2 separate regions of the Homo sapiens genome follow, and region 1 is linked to region 2. Evidence: fine-mapped expression QTL. A gene starts in region 2. The other region holds a variant in brackets. All regions are shown on one strand. Distances are from middle to middle.

Region 1 (8,334 bases), 35 kb before region 2:
GGGAGGGGACAAAGTGAGCAGAGAGGAAAGAAAGAATGCAGGGAAAAGAGTGAAGTGGGCAGGAAGCAGAAAGAGAAAAGGAAGAGGCCAGAGTAAGTAAGCGTCTGTTTTGCTCAGCTCCTGACTCTGTGGCAATGCTAGCGGCACCTGTGCCTCTGGTTTTACCAGTTCTGGGTTACCTTGAAGTAAATAGTGGGGCAAGAGCGGGTTACTTGGGGCAGGCTGCTGGAGAAGAGGAAAAACATTATTCTCCATTGTCATTGTTCAGGATGGTTCCAGCAGCATTGTCTCAAAGAGCTGTTCACAAAACATTGGACACCCTCTCCCCAGATATCTTAGAGCTTGAACGTTAGGAATCTGAAGTTGTCTTTTATTAGGTAAGTTTTAAATCATGATTATTGAGGAAAATGAAAAAAGAATGCTGTGGATCATACCAAGCTTAGGTAGCCCCCAAATGAAAATATGAGGTCAGTAGCAAAGTCTAGTTCTGAGCTCCAGCGCTCTCAAGCACACATTTCAGAGAGAGTTCCTTACATCCATAAACTGCAAAAACCACACACACACACGGCATACACACAGACACATGGCATACACACACACACACACACACACACACACACAGATTCCTTTATAGCTCAGACAGCTTGGGACTTATTTACCTGAAAAGTAAAATATTAATAAAACACACATTTTTGATAGTTTTCTTAAGCTATAGTTATTTATATGACTATTTCAGGCGGTATTTGTTATAGTAAGACAAATTAGATATTGAAGTTTTATTCCAGTCCCTAGAATAGAGAAATATACATTTTCTTCCAAGTTATATATATTGATAAAAGGGTCATGTACCCACTAAGGGTTCTCTGATGCATTACAGAGTTAGAGAGAAAATTGATTTAAAGTTGCCATTATATTAACATGAACCATGTCAAGACCACAAAGTGGATAACTCCATACTTACTATGAAGAAATATCATCTCATTGCTAGCAAGAGCCTAAGGCAGCACATAGCTAACAAAAGCTCCAAGGATGATAACATCCTTATCGATGCACATGTTGGCCTGCCTTCAACGAGATAAAATTCTCTCCAATTCTCTTTCTTCTGTATGTAAAACCCAAGTAAGCACTCAGAAAGACCCAGAATACCTAGTCTTCAAGTTGTCTGGCTTTAGACAGCAATCAGAAGTCCTAAATGAAGACAATAATCGACTCTGCTGGACAAAAGTCTGTAACCAAATGCAAAGCCCGGCTTGCTGTGGTCTCAATATTATTACAGGTTTTCACCTTGCAAACTCTACATCATCTCCCTCGCCCCACAGCCCTGCGGGATGTTGAAAGTGATAGAGTGAAGGATTCCTTTACCCACAAAGTCACTCTGAATATTCATCTAGCATGTGGAGCAGGTAAGGGGACTTTGGTTAGCAATGGATTCCAGTCTGGCAGGCCCAGCCCAGAGGCAGGGTATCTGGCTTCTTTCCTCATACCTGGTCGAGTCCTTGCAAATAAAGGCTAGACTGGCAGCCATGGCCAGTCTAAGGGCTATGACTTTATGGGCACCAGATTGTCCCACAATCCAGTATCATCTTCCCCTTCCAACTACTTCGGTGTCTGCTAAAATTCCACTGTGGTTCTGGCTTTTCTTTGCTTTTATTCTACAGGAAATCTGTTATTCTCTCAGGCATTCTTTACTTGGGGCAGCAGGGAAGAAACATCTATGTAATAAAAAGAAAAGAAACTATAAGTCCAACCAGTCTAAAATGTCTTGTGCTGGGGGAGGGGAGCAGAAACCAAGGGCTAACTAATTATGTCTTGTTGGAGACAGGGCAACTTGTGCATTAGGAAAGATCATGGAAGGAAAGAAAAAAAAGACACCGAGAGAGGAAGCCTTCCCATCTGTCTTACGTTTTCTCCCTCTCCTCTGGAGACAAGGAATATATATATAGTTTTCTTTTTTTTTTTTTTTTGAGACGGAGTCTCGCTCTGTCGCCCAGGCTGGAGTGCAGTGGTGCCATCTTGGCTCACTGCAACCTCCGACTCCCTGGTTTAAGCGATTCTCCTGCCTCAGCCTCCTGAGTAGCTGGGATTACAGGCATGTGCCACCACACCCAGCTAATTTTTTTATTTTTAGTAGAGATGGGGTTTCACCATGTTGGCCAAGATGGTCTTGATCTCCTGACCTTGTGATCTGCCCGCCTCAGCCTCCCAAAGTGCTGGGATTACAGGCATAAGCCACCGCACCCAGCCAAGAAAAATCTTTAGAAGAGAGGTAAGAGGAGGAAATTTCTTATGTACTCAGAAAGATTTGTTTGGGGGAGAAAGAGGAGGACAGAACGGCTAAAAAGCCAGTCTGTAATGTTTGAAGGCTGGGGGAACTCTCTGTACCCTTTTCTAAATGGGGGAAGCGTTGCCTAAAATAGGAGAGGCAAAACTTTCAGGGAAATGCTCAAATCAAGTGTATGCTGGGAAGAGGTAACATGTTACACTGCTACAAGTTTCTGTTGACAGGAGGAAGATGGAAGCATTTTGGAGCCTGTGACATGGCCCAGGAAGGGCAGGCCTGGGCGGAAAATGGGAGCAGACAGCAGAAAATGGGTGGTGTGAAGGGCTGGGGCAGTGGGAACCTAAAGGGGAAGATGTGGAGGTGTTGAGTGCTGAGTTAATCTTGGCCACTCTCAGTTGGGAGAAGCTCTTAACTGACAATTCTGCCTAGGCCTGTGGGGATTACCCTGTAAGCAGCAAAACAAAGTTTTCCAAGAGCTTTGAAGAGGAGCATTTCTGGGTTGGACTCTTCCCTCCCAGTGTGGTATTGCAAAGGTGCTCTGTGTCTGTGGCGCTAGCCCATCAAACAACGTCAGTAGGAAGAATACAGATTTGTAAAAAATTTTCCTGGTTTGTCTCTCATTTGGTTTTTCTTATTTTTTTTAGCAAAGTGTCTTATGAATGTTCTACCCTCTTTCAGTTGCATCAAGAAGAAAATAAGAGAAAAGTGGTTTTGAAGATAGCCCAAGAAAGAAAAGTACCAGCCACCCCCTAGGTTTAGTATGGCAGCAGTAGCAGGAGGGGATCCAAGGCAGGGTGGAGCATTAACAGAAAAACCTGCATCCCCTCAACTTCCACACCCCCGCCCGTGCAGTTCCCAGAGTCGTGAGACTGGGTTTGGGTCCTGGCTCTGCCACTTACTGGTGTGCAAATGGGCATGTTATTGCATCTCTCTGAACCTCAGTGTCCACATCTGTAAAATGGGAACAATAATGGGAAATACCAGCCTCCTAGGGTTATCTCATCCTAAGAGAAGAATGGGGTAAAGTGTTTAGCACACAGCATCTGACCCAGAGTAAGCCATCAATAGATGTTAGCTGTTAGTATTCCAAAGGGAAGTGGAGTGACACTGAGAGGCATCTAGAATGAGGATATTTAAAGCAGGCCAGATATGAAAAGGACAGACCAGACTGGGCCAGATGCACACAGAAGGCTTAGCCTTTATAGTCCCACAGGCTTGGTGGCAGAACATGGCCATGGATCCAGTAGTTCAGTCATCCAAGTGGCAGGTGAAAAGTGTAGGGTGGCCTTAAGAATTGGATTCCTGTTCACTTCCTGACAATGTCAGAAATGAAAGACATCTAGTATTCCACAGTTTAGCTGCCCGACAGTTATCTGAGTGTAGATTTGAACCTAACAGGCACTAGGTTAGGGGTCAGCAAACTTTTTCTGTAAAGGACCAGAGAGTAAATATTTTAGGATTTGTGGGCCACATGCAGTCCCTTCCAGAAGAATTCAACTCTTCTGTTGCAGCACAAAAGCCACCATGGTGATTCAAAAAATAAATAAATGGACATGGGTGTGCTCCAGCAAAATTTTGTTTATGGACACTGACATTTGAATATCATATAATTTTCACGTGTCATGAAATATTATTCTTCTTTTAATGTTTTCAACCATTAAAAATGCATTTTTAATAAATGCCTCTTGCATTTTTAAATGGTTAAAAAATTAATATTTCATGATGTGACATTTTGTTGGAGCACAGCCATGTCCATTCTTTCCCAGCTGTGCACTCTTGGAGGGTGAAATTTTTGCTTAGTTGATCTCGTGGGCCATACAAAACAAAAAGAATCAGTGGGTCAGATTTGCCCCCAGGCTGCAGTTGCAGACCCTTCACTCAGGCATGTTCTCCTACCCCTGAAGGCACAGCATTCCCCAGGACCCAGTCACACTTCATTGCAAAACCAGGGATACTTATTGTGGCAACTTTTGCCATGTTATTTTTTCTTTCTTTTTTTTTTTTTATTATACCTTAAGTTCTGGAATACATGTGCAGAATGTGCAGGTTTGTTACATGGGTATACATGTGCCATGGTGGTTTGCTGCACCCATCAACACATCGTCTACATTAGGTATTTCTCCTTATGCTATCCCTCCACCAGCCCCCCACCCCGCAACAGGCCCCAGTGTGTGATGTTCTCCTCCCTGTGTCCATGTGTTCTCACTGTTCAACTTCCACTTATGAGTGAGAACATGCGGTGTTTGGTTTTCCGTTCCTGTGTTAGTTTGCTGAGAATGATGGTTTCCAGCTTCATCCATGTCCCTGCAAAGGACATGAACTCATCCTTTTTTATGAATTTTTGCCATGTTTTGAACGTGGCAACTTCCCCAATATTTTTGCCACTTTCAATTTCTCCAGCTTTTCTCTGTCCCTGTGCAATCTTTAAAATAGAGTCCACTAGCTCTTTGTAAAAAAATAAAATAAAAAAATAAACAGAAAGCTAATGTTCTAGTCCCCTGTCTCCCACCTGCTAAGGATAGACACGGAGCCCAAATTTTGTTTCTCCTTAAGGCTTTGAAAGCTATTGCCCTGAAGCTACTCACTTGATAACAATGAGTTTGAAATAGTCATGCCTCTACAAACCATCTCTGTTGAGGTTGAACACTAGGCTTTCTGAGTGCTTTCTCCTTGTGAATTTGATCCAGCAGGGCAATGTTTGTATTTTTGTGTTCTTTTAGATGACTAAGCAACAGGCTGGTTTATTGAATAATGATGGGAAATGTGGTGTATAGAAAGAATCTACATTCGGTGTCAAAGATCTAGACTTCAGTCTCCATTCTGTGTGATCTTGGGAAAGTCACTAAACCTTTCTGAGCCTCAGTCTCCCCATCTGGAAAGCAGAAATAATCATAACATCCGCTACACATGGTTGCTATGAGACTCAAATAAAATATGTCTATAATAAATTGTAAACCAC[G/C]ATATGAAGATAAGTGCATTCATTCATTCAACAAAAATGTATTTCTTAATGCATTTTTAGTAAATAAAGATCAACTCAACAAAAATTTTACCCTCCAAGAGTACACAGGCTAGAAAAGAATACTGGATTAAATTATAATGTGAAAAATTCCTGAGTAGTCATCTATGTACTGTGGAGTCAGGAATGTACCCTAAACCTCAAATGTGCACAATTAAAACGCCTATCCTCTAAAAACAATTTTTTAATCCTGATCTTCTTTCCCTAGTTCCTTCACCGTGGGGAGCAGATAACTCAGGACAAAATCCTTTTCTCTCGGTCTTACTGAGCCATTTAGGAGAAATCAGGGCTGAGAGAAAAAGAAATTTTCCACTGAGCTTCCTCAGAGATTCCCATCAGAGCCTGAGGATGGAAAACAGAGAAGGGTCCCATTACATCTAGCCCTCCCGAGGGAAAGCTGCTGTTTGCATTTCCTGCCTACAGCTCTCGGGACTGCAAATAAATCAGTGGTTTATTCAAACCAGTAGCTGGAGAGTAGATTATGGCTGGCGGCCCTGAGTGCAGCTGAGACCATGAGTGATGGAAATGCTTGGCAGGGAGGGAGTGGCAATGTGACCTGCGGAAAACACCAAGACCCCATAGGCCCGTTCTTCCCTCATCTCACTGCTCAGTGGAATAGCACCTGACACTCACACTCTACTCATAAGAGTTAACTAAGATTTGTTAAGATTTATGTGAGATTTATCTTAACATAATAAAAATTAAATATCTCCAAATACTACAAGAAATGGTCTTAACCTCTTTGTTATCTAATCAAATTGTTAAGTGATTCAAACACCTTTGCCTAATATTTTATCTTTCATGAGTTATTTCACTAAGTTTTGTGTCTATATTCTAATTTACGTTTTTGGCACTGATGGCATTAATTGTACCCAATGGCAGAATTTTTTTTTGAAGGCTAAATAACTAAAAAACATGCCTAGTAAGTCCTGATCTGAATAAGTTAATAATATTTTAAAAAGTCAAACCTGTGGCCTGAGTCTCCATTGCCTCTGATCCCCTTAAGGGTGGGGCACTGTTGGCCACTCTCTCTGTTTTAAAGATCTTCACCCTTGACTTCCATATCTATTCAGCTGCCTGAGTTTTCTTCTATTTCCTTATCCACCAAGTACCCTTCAAACATACAACTACTCACAATTTGTACCCTTTATCTATTGCCACCACTAAGGTGACCAACCACTCAGATTTTATAAACTGAAAGTTCCACAACCCAGAAAACCTCTCTGTCCTGGATAACCTGGGACAGTTGGTCACCCTAAGCTCCACCCAAATGACTGAGGCTAAATTCAGGTAACAAGTATTACCTTTCAACTCAGCTATGATATTCACACCAATTCCATAACTTTGTGAACAAGAAACCTATACACATTCACTTGAACCGCACATACACACACACACACTCTTATACTCTTTCACACACACCTCATGCACACACTCACATATACTCCCATTCACACACACCACATACATTCTCACACACCACATACATTCACACACACACCCCACACACTCACATTCACACACACCAACACACACATTCACACACACCAACACACTCACATTCACACACACACCAACACACACATTCACACACATCACACACTCACATTCACACACACCAACACACACATTCACACACACCACACTCACATTCACACACAACACACACATTCACACCCACCAACACACACATTCATTCACACACACCAACACACACTCACATTCACACACACCAACACACACATTCACATACACACACCAACACACACTCACATTCACACACACACCAACACACATTCACATACACACACCAACACACTCACATTCACACACACCATACACACGCACCAACACACATTCACACACACCACCACACACATTCACACACACACCAACATACACTCACATTCACACACACCAACACACACATTCATACACACCACACTCACATTCACACACACCACCCCACACTCACATTCACACAAACACCACCACACACCATCTCACACGCACACCACCACACACATTCACACACACCACACATTGACAAACACAACACATATTCACACACACACCACCACACACATTCACATTCACACACACACACCAACACACACTCACATTCACACACACCACACACATTCACACACCACACATTCACACACCACACATTCACACACACCAACACACTCACACACACACCACACACATTCACACACACACACACACCACCACACACATTCACACACACACCCCACCTGCTTAAAATCCTCCAAAGGCTTCTCATTATGCAAAAACCTTCTGACTGGCCTGCAAAGCCCTTCACACTGCATCTCAGGACTACCTTTTCTGGCAGCTCTTGATGCTTCATTCTATTCACTTCACTACGTACAATCACTGAAAGGGCCTGATGGTTAGGTTCTACTTACAATTTTAATTTTGGAAAATTTAAAACATATACAAAAGCAGGTAATGGTACATCCCCTATGTAACCACTACTCAACCATTAACATAGTGCCAGTACACACTGTTGAAGGCTTTTGATGAGGTTTATTATATAATTCAAATATTTCTAGTACCTTTAGCCTAAAAGATTTTGTGGGTTCTTTTCATTCCAGTTAAATTTTTAGTACCTATTAAAATTAATTGGGTTTCAAGATTCATCTTTGAAATCCACACTATCTGAAATATACCAAAATATACATCATTCTTCTGGTATGTGTTTCCTCTAATTCAACTTTTTTCCCTTCTATTTTTAATTGACATGTAATAATAGAACATATCTAAGAGTGGTATTTCTATACATGTATACAATGTGTAATTATCAAATTAGGGTAATTAGCATATCCATCAACTCAAAAGTGTATCATTTCTTTATGTTGGAAACATTAAAAGGCTCTCTTCTAGCTTTCGAAAATATGCAGTTACTGTTAACTATATTCACCCAATGCTATAAAGCACTAGAACTTATTCCTATCTAGCTGTGATTCATCTGTTAGCCAACCTCTCCTAATCCTCTCCCCTAACCCTTCCTAGC
Region 2 (8,334 bases):
TAATTCCAAATGACATGATTAAAGCGCTATTTACTGAGCTTTCAAATGTAGATAATACCATTGGCTCATCTACGAAAGATGAGAATTTGGATCGCATACACCACCTCTCCTCTGCCTCCTCCAATGTTTGATAATTATATCATGTTTTGTTCCTCTACTTAGTGCTTTTCCCACTTCAAATAACTTACTTATACCACTATTTCTTGTTTCAATAGCTCTAATCAGTATCTAGAGTAAAATTAAGTAAGCAGGAGGCTATTGACCTGAGACAGTCTCCATGCTTTGAATTCCTATGAAACAAAATGCAACCTAACTTAGTATGTAAACAAACTGAAACTTAACTTAGGAGTTTCATTTTTATAACAGATAACCAGGTCTTTGCCAATCACAAGCAGCCAAGCTTCAGCTAAGTGCAAGCAGCCAACGGACTGGCTCATGTCTAAATCAAGCAAAACACTTAGCTGCAACAAATCAAACTATTTATGTACTTTACCTTCCTGTTCTGCTTATAAATACTCATTGCTTACAGTTGCAGAGCTCTCGGAACCTCTTCTGGTTCTGAGTACTGCCTGATTCAAGAATCATTCTTTACTCAAATAAACTCCATTAAATTTAAATTGTCTGAGGTTTTTCTTTTAACACTAAATACCCCTCTCAGCAATAGGAAGATGATAGCCCATAGAAGTGAATATATTTTTCTTTTTGTTGTCTCTACTCCATTTTATCCACAACAGGGCCCAACCTAAAAATAATAATAATAACAACAGTAATAGTATGTGGAGATAGACTGTAAGGACTCAGATCAATGTTTTATTATTCTGTGATTCTTAAAGTAAATATACATGAGTCCATACTGATATAAATAACTGACTGAATAAATAAATAAATAGAAAGAAGGGACAACTCTCCTGTCAAAAGAATTCCAATTAATAAATGAAAAAAACTAAGGAAATAGAGAATCACCATTAGAACACCACAGTAACAACTGCTGCAGGCAAGATCCACTGATGAATAATAAAACTGATGGGTGACAGTTTAGGGAGCAACTGGATATTTGCATAGCCTCAAAGTATCTCCCCCAAATATTTATTAGTTACCATGGTAGTGTTAACGTATATCCACAACTTCTTTAATATTCTTCCCTCCAGTGGATGGACTTAATCTACTCAACCCTCACTCCCAGGATGGGCTGCACTTACTGACTCCCTTCCAAAAACTAGGGTTTGGATAGGGAAAAATGGTGACTTTACAGTGCAGAAATTTTCCAGTTGCTCCGCCTTAACCAGGTGACCAAGGTAAACACCACCAGTGATGAGTCATGTTGATATCCCTGTACCTCATGACATGATTCAAGAAGGGCACCTTACCTCTGTGGTAATCTTCCCAAAAGTCCACAACCTTAGTCTTACTCTGAGGAAATATCAGACAAACCCAAATGAAGGGACATGCCACAAAATAGCTGATCAATACTCTTCACAAGTGTCAAAGTCATGAAACACTAGAAAAGGCCAAGAAACTCTCATAGATATGGGAAGAATAAAGAGACATGACAACAAAATTCTGTATGTATGCTGGACTGGATCCTGGAACAGAAAAAGAACACTAATGAAAAAACTGGTGAAATCTGAGCAAAACCTGCAGTTCAGTTAATAGTAACGTACCAGGCTGGGCACAGTGGCTCATGCCAGCACTTTGGGAGGCTGAGGCAGGGGGATCACGAGATCAGGAGTTGGAAACCAGCCTGTCCAATATGGTGAAACCCCGTCTCTACTAAAAAATACAAAAAATTAGCTGAGCGTGGTGGCACACGCCTGTAGTCCCAGCTACTTGGGAGACTGAGGCAGAAGAATCGCTTGAACCTGGGAGCCGGAGGTCGCAGTGAGCCAAGATTGCGCCACTGCACTCCGGCCTGGGTAACAGAGTGAGACTCCAGCTCAAAAAAAAAAAAAAAAGTAATGTACCAATGTTAATGTATTGGTTTTTATCATTATCATACTTATGTAAGATTTTCACATTAGGTAAAGCTGGATGAGGGGTATTCAGAAACCTTGTACTATCTTTACAAGTCTTCTATAAATCTAAAACATTTCCAAATATAAAAAGCTTTTTAAAATAAGTGATTGATCTACCTTTGAAATGAAACCTTAAATTACCACGCTGAATTAGCTCTTGGACACTTTAAAATTATGATTACTGGAGAAAAACAAAAATGTAGCTGGGCATGGTGGCTCATGCCTGTAATCCCAGCAGTTTGGGAGGCCGAGGTGGGAGGATCACTTGAGCCCAGGAATTCAAGACCAGACTGGGAAGCATGGTGAAACCCCACCTCGACAAAAAACAAAAATTAGCTGGGTGTGGTGACATACACCTGTAGTCCCTGCTACTCAGGAGGCCAAGGTGGGAGAATTGCTTGAGCTTGGGGGGCAGAGGTTGCAGTGAGCCAAAATTGAACCACTGCACTTCAGTCTGAGCGAGAGTGAGATCATGTCTCAAAAAAAACAAGGTGGGCTGTGGTGGCTCACATTTGTAATCCCAGCACTTTGGAAGGCCAAAATGGGTGGATCACCTGAGGTCAGGAGTTCAAGACCAGGCTGGCCAACATAGTGAAAGCCCATCTCTACCAAAAACACACAAAAAATTAGCTGGGCGTGGTGGTGGGCACCTGTAATCCCAGCTACTTGGGAGGCTGAGGCAGAGAGAATTGCTTGAACCCAGGAGGCAGAGGTTGCAGTGAGCTGCAATTGTGCTACTGCACTCCAGCCTGGGCAACAGAACAAGACTCCATCTCAAAAAAAAAAAAAGTTTAGTTTCAGTGGTTGTTGAACAATTAGTTTACTCTGCAAGTAGGTAATGATAACATCATTTTTCATTCCATTTTGCATGCTCTTCTCCATGTAGGGGTTTACCTCGTATCTCTGTATTCTGATAGCCTGGAGTTGTTTTCCTTATTGATACAAATGAAAAGTGGAATCTTTATATGTTTTCCAATTTATTAAATTAGTAATGTTAAAAATAATTTTAACAAAGTTAAATGGAATTATTTTAAAATTCTGTTTCTTTGCAGTAAATGTAATCCCAATATAAGACAATATGACTCACATATTTGTGAAAACGAATAGGGCCAATCGTTTCCATTATCACCAAAATTATCTATAGTGAGGCCTCTCCATCTTCTACCAGTCCCTCTTTTTTTTCACTCACTCAAAATATATGTATCGATGGTCAAATGTGTCCCAGACATTGTGCAAATCTCTGACAAAGGTAACACAAGAAAATGTGTACTCTGAGAACTTCTTATTCTGCCCCAGTTTAGGAGATTCATGCAACTGCCAAGCAACAATAATAAGAGCTAGCAGTTATTGGAGTACCTCATTCCTCACAACTCGTCATAAGGCAGGTGTTATCATTAGATATTCCCCATGTGTATGCAGGATGAGGAAATAGGTTCAGAGAGGTCAAGTGGCTCACCCAAGGGGCACAGCTAAGTGAAAGGCACTGCAGGCATCTCAAACTACCCCCTTCCCACAAGACTCCACTGCAGAGCAGGACAGTCACCCTGACACCAGCCCAATGGGTTCATCTTGCCCATTACCCAGATGGGGCTAATTTATCAAGACAAGGGAATTGCAATAGAGAAAGAGTTTAATACACATAGAGCCAGCTAAACAGGAGACCAGAGTTTTATTATTACTCAAATTAGCCTCCCAAAATTCGGAGGCAGAGGCTAGGGGACTTTGTGGGTTTTTTTGTTTTTGTTTTTGTTTTTCTTTTGAGAGGGAGTCTTGCTATGTCACCCAGGCTGGAGTGCAGTGGCATGATCTCGGCTCACTGCAACCTCTGCCTCCCGGATTCAAGCAATTCTCCTGACTCAGCCCCCCGAGTAACTGGGATTACAGGCACATGCCACCATGCCCGGCTAATTTTTGCATTTTTAGTAGAGACAGGGTTTCACCATGTGGGCCAGAGTGGTCTTGAACTCCTGACCTCAAGTGATCCACCCACCTCAGCCTCCCAAAGTGCTGGGATTACAGGCGTGAGCCACCATGCCCGCCGGCTAGAGTTTTTTAATGATAGTTTGATGGGCAAGGGGCTAGAGAATGGGTGCTGCTAATTGGTTGGGGATGCAATCACAGGGGTGTGGAAAACCGTCCTCAGTGCACCGAGTTGCATTTGGATGCGGGCCACAGAGGAGTCACTGGTCCAGGTGGAGTCATCCTGTCATTAGAAATGGAAAAGTCTGAGAAGGTATCTTCAAAGGCCAGTCTTAGGTTCTACAAAAGTGGTTATTTACAGGAATAATTGGGGAAGTTGCAGAGCTTGTGACCTCTGGAACAATGTCTGGTAATTGTTAATGCCTACATCTTAGCAGAATTCAGGCCCCTCTCATAATCCTAAACTTGTGGACTTTTATTAGTTTTATAAAACTGGTTTAGTTTGGGGAAGGGCTATTATCATTTAAACTATAAACTAAATTTCTCCCTATATTAGCTCGTCCCATGCTCAGGAATGACCAAGGGCAGTTTGGAGGTTAAAGGCACGATGGAGTTGGTGAGTTCAGATCTGTTTCACCTTCGTAATTTTCTCACTGTTAAAATTTTTGCAAAGGCGATTGCAGCGCCCCTTGTCCACACCTGCGCGCTCCCCAAGGGGTCCCTACCCACCCCGCCCCTGGCTGGGGGCCGTAGGCTGGCCCTGCCCCGCTGCGCCGGAGGTGGACCTCTACCAGGGCAGTTTCTCTCTGAGGCTGCGCGCTAAGGCGGTGGGCGGTCCCAGGCAGGCCCAGAAGCTGGGCAGCCTCTGCCGGGTTCCGGGAAAAGGAGCTCCTGCTGCCACTGCTCTTCCGGAGCCTGCAGCATGGGGCCCCTGCCGCGCACCGTGGAGCTCTTCTATGACGTGCTGTCCCCCTACTCCTGGCTGGGCTTCGAGGTGACGCTGGGAGGGGTCGCCTCGGCAGTGTCTGGGGAGTGAGGGCGGAGGGAAGAGTGAGCGCAGGGCTCCGGGACAGAGGTCTCGTGTAACTCCTGGCGCCGCCCAAGGGGTTAAGGCAAGCAGGGAGAGCTCCGGGGCTGAAGGTCACTTTGTGCTTTTAAACGGAATAGAGTCGCTGGCTCCAACCCGAGCCTTTATATCCCGACTGCAGTTTCCCACGGTGGTGGAAAGAGGGGCGGCTCCAAACATTCAGGGAGAAATGCAGAACACGGCCACCTCTTAGCCCAACGATGGCAGTTTTGGGGAAAACTGGCCACAGGAGCGAAGATCCTGGAATAGATTTCTAGTAGTGAGGAGAGTTTTGCCAATTTCAAACCAAACAATGTAGGGTGTCCGCATAACCCCTGCTCTGCACTTAGCGCCTCCCTTCCCTTTCCCTCGGCTCTTTCACTTTTCCATCTTGCACACTGGCAATCGTTCTTGACCTCTGCCCGCAGATCCTGTGCCGGTATCAGAATATCTGGAACATCAACCTGCAGTTGCGGCCCAGCCTCATAACAGGGATCATGAAAGACAGTGGTAGGAAGGGAGGGTCGGGGCAGGGGTGATCTCAGTGGCCCAAGAGAGCCGACCCCAGCGGGTCCTTATATTGGCACTGGCAGCCAGAAAGCTGCCCTCTGCCCCGTCTCTACTAAAAATACAAAATTAGCCGGGCGTGGTAGTGCATGCCTGTATACCACAGCTACTCGGGAGGCTGAGGCGGGAGAATCGCTTGAACCCAGGAGGCGGAGGTTGCGGTGAGCTGAGATCGCACCATTGCACTCCAGCCTGGGCAACAAGAGCGAAACAACAAGAGAAAAAAAAGGAAGCTGCCCTCTGCCCAAAACCCACGTCGAGGTCCCCAAACCTGGGACCCTTAGGTCTTTTCTCACTTAGCGTGCCCAACCTTCTCCTGGCAGGAAACAAGCCTCCAGGTCTGCTTCCCCGCAAAGGACTATACATGGCAAATGACTTAAAGCTCCTGAGACACCATCTCCAGATTCCCATCCACTTCCCCAAGGATTTCTTGTCTGTGATGCTTGAAAAAGGTGAAGAGAGTGGGATGTAGACAGGGTATCCAGTGAAAAACACAGAAGTCGGAGATTGAGGGATTGATAGGATGGAGGGGCTGCGGGAGACTAAAGCAAGTGAAGCCTGCCTTGGGAAACCTCAGGATCAGCCTTGAGCGAGCTGAAGGTTGCCGGGCATGAAAGGGAAGAAGAGCAGGCAAATAGGTCATGGGAACCTTGGGTGAGAGGCTGAGGGCGGAGGAGCTCTGGGGGATGTCAGAAGCAAGGAAGAGCTAGTCCTCCACCAGGAAAGCAGCAAGAGGAGCCCTGCCTCTGGGTGCCTCTGCCCCACAGGAAGTTTGTCTGCCATGCGTTTCCTCACCGCCGTGAACTTGGAGCATCCAGAGATGCTGGAGAAAGCGTCCCGGGAGCTGTGGATGCGCGTCTGGTCAAGGGTGAGTGTGGGGCTCTGGGAATCCTCTGGGAGGACCTTGGATGACTTTCTGACCTTCCCCAGGCACGTTTTCAGGGTCATGATCCTGCCCCCGCCCGGGGGATCTACTGTCCTCCCAGTCACACCCCTCTCCCCGCACCGCCTTCCTGCTGTCTTCTCTTCTTCCCAGAATGAAGACATCACCGAGCCGCAGAGCATCCTGGCGGTGAGTGTCCTGGCTCCACCCCAACTGCACTCATAGAGAATCTGAGAACAGTTGGCGTTTGGGGGTAAAGAAGACAATAGGTCTCTTATTGCATGGAAAAGGTTATAATTACTGGGGAAGAAAGGATGTCTGTGATTCAGGGCACAAACTACTGAAAAGTTGGAACTAAGGATCCTCAAAAGGATATCTCAAGGTTGAAAGGGGAAGTGCAAAAGGGACAATATATGGGAAGAATTTATTTGCTGAAAGATGTCAGTGAGAGAAAGATGCTCAGTGTTGGAACCCCTGGATGGGGAGGGATATAGTATTCACAAGTCTCCACAAACTCCAACACAAACCTCACCAACACATCCAGAGTGGAAGGCAGGAGACTTGTTCCAAGAGGCTTTAAAAAGACGAAAAGAGATAACTAATGCCAGGGTTATATAGGAGCCTGAGTGAGAACAAATGGAAATAGCTCAAAACATTGACCAGTGAGCCATGGATGGGGGTATAAAAGTAAGTTTGTCTTCAGGATTAAATTAGGAAATTCAAAACAGTATTATTCCTCTGGTTTACAAAAAAAAATAGTTGAGACCTATTCAAATTTAATATATAAAGTGGCAAATCACACAAAAGTTAAACGTATAAGGAATGGCAAATATATCTTCTACAGTCTATACTCCTGCAAAGTACATGTGTAATTTTTAGCTTGCTTTTTTACTTCATATTTAATCATTTTCCATGCTTTTTTTTTTTTTTTTTTTTTTTTTGAGACACGGTCTGGCTCTGTCGCCCAGGCTGGAGTGCAGTGGTGTGACCTCGACCCACTGTACCCTTTGCCTCCTGGACTCAAGCAATCTTCCCACCTCAGTCTCCTGAGTAGCTGGGACTACAGGCACACACTACCATGTCTGGCTAACTTTTTTATTTTTTGTAGAGAAGGGGTTTCACTGTGTTGCCCAGGCTGGTCTCAAACTCCTGTGCTCAAGAGATCTGTCTGCCTCCACCTCCCAAAGTGCTGTGTTTACAGGAATGAGCCACTGTGCCCAGCCTCCATGGAATTCTTAACTCTGAAAGTATAGTTCTTTGTTTCTATAGAGGTTCCACTGAGTGGACTTATTTTTGTTTTGCTTAACCATTTTTCTGTGGTTAAACATTTTGTGTAGGACATAATTCTCTAATTTAACCAAGTCAAAGATAGTGTCTCATTAGGACAGGCTACATGAATTCCTGGGTCCCACTTCTGATCTAGGAAGTCAAGTTGCAGTGGTTGTCAATCTTGGCTGTGAATTAAAATCACCTGGAGCACCTTGGCGCTAACCCTTTCCCCTGGAATTGTGATGTAATTGTTCTTGTTCTTTTTTTTCTTTCTTTCTTTTTTTTTTTTTTTTTTTTTTTTTTGAGACAGTGTCTTGCTTTGTCACCCAGGCTGGGGTGCAGTGGCATGATCATGGCTCACTGCAGACTCAACCTCTTGGGCTCAAGTGATCTCGCATCTCAGCCTTACGAGTAGCTGGGACTTCAAGCATGTGCCACCATGCCTAATTTTTTAAAAATTTTTTGTAGAGATGGGGGTTTCACTTTGCTGCCCAGGCTGGTCTCGAACTCCTGGGCTGAAGCAATCTCCTGCCTCAGTCTCCCAAAGTGCTAGAATTACAGGCATGAGCCACAGTGCTTGGATCTAGTTCTAAGGGATGACCTCACGTGGAGATTTT

What was found.
Region 1: its variant is fine-mapped to the expression of GSTK1 in whole blood (INTERVAL, PIP above 0.99).

What each region holds. Positions count from the first base shown.
Region 1 is chr7:143,223,832-143,232,165 of GRCh38, forward strand. No RefSeq gene overlaps it. Among named protein-coding and RNA genes, the nearest start is that of TAS2R40, 6.0 kb to the left of the region's middle. The variant G/C (reference allele first, on the strand shown) is at 5,241.
Region 2 is chr7:143,258,660-143,266,993 of GRCh38, forward strand. It overlaps GSTK1 (glutathione S-transferase kappa 1), which reads left to right and starts at 4,782. Exons shown (of 8, transcript NM_015917.3): 1 at 4,782-4,926; 2 at 5,427-5,508; 3 at 5,889-6,017; 4 at 6,333-6,433; 5 at 6,602-6,637. The coding sequence starts at 4,855. The region is part of intron 2 of TMEM139-AS1 (TMEM139 antisense RNA 1); the gene reads right to left. It overlaps LOC105375546 (a long non-coding RNA gene), which reads left to right. Exons shown (of 3, transcript XR_007060569.1): 3 at 4,489-4,548. RefSeq lists a silencer at 4,600-4,669 and enhancers at 4,697-4,991, 4,810-5,029.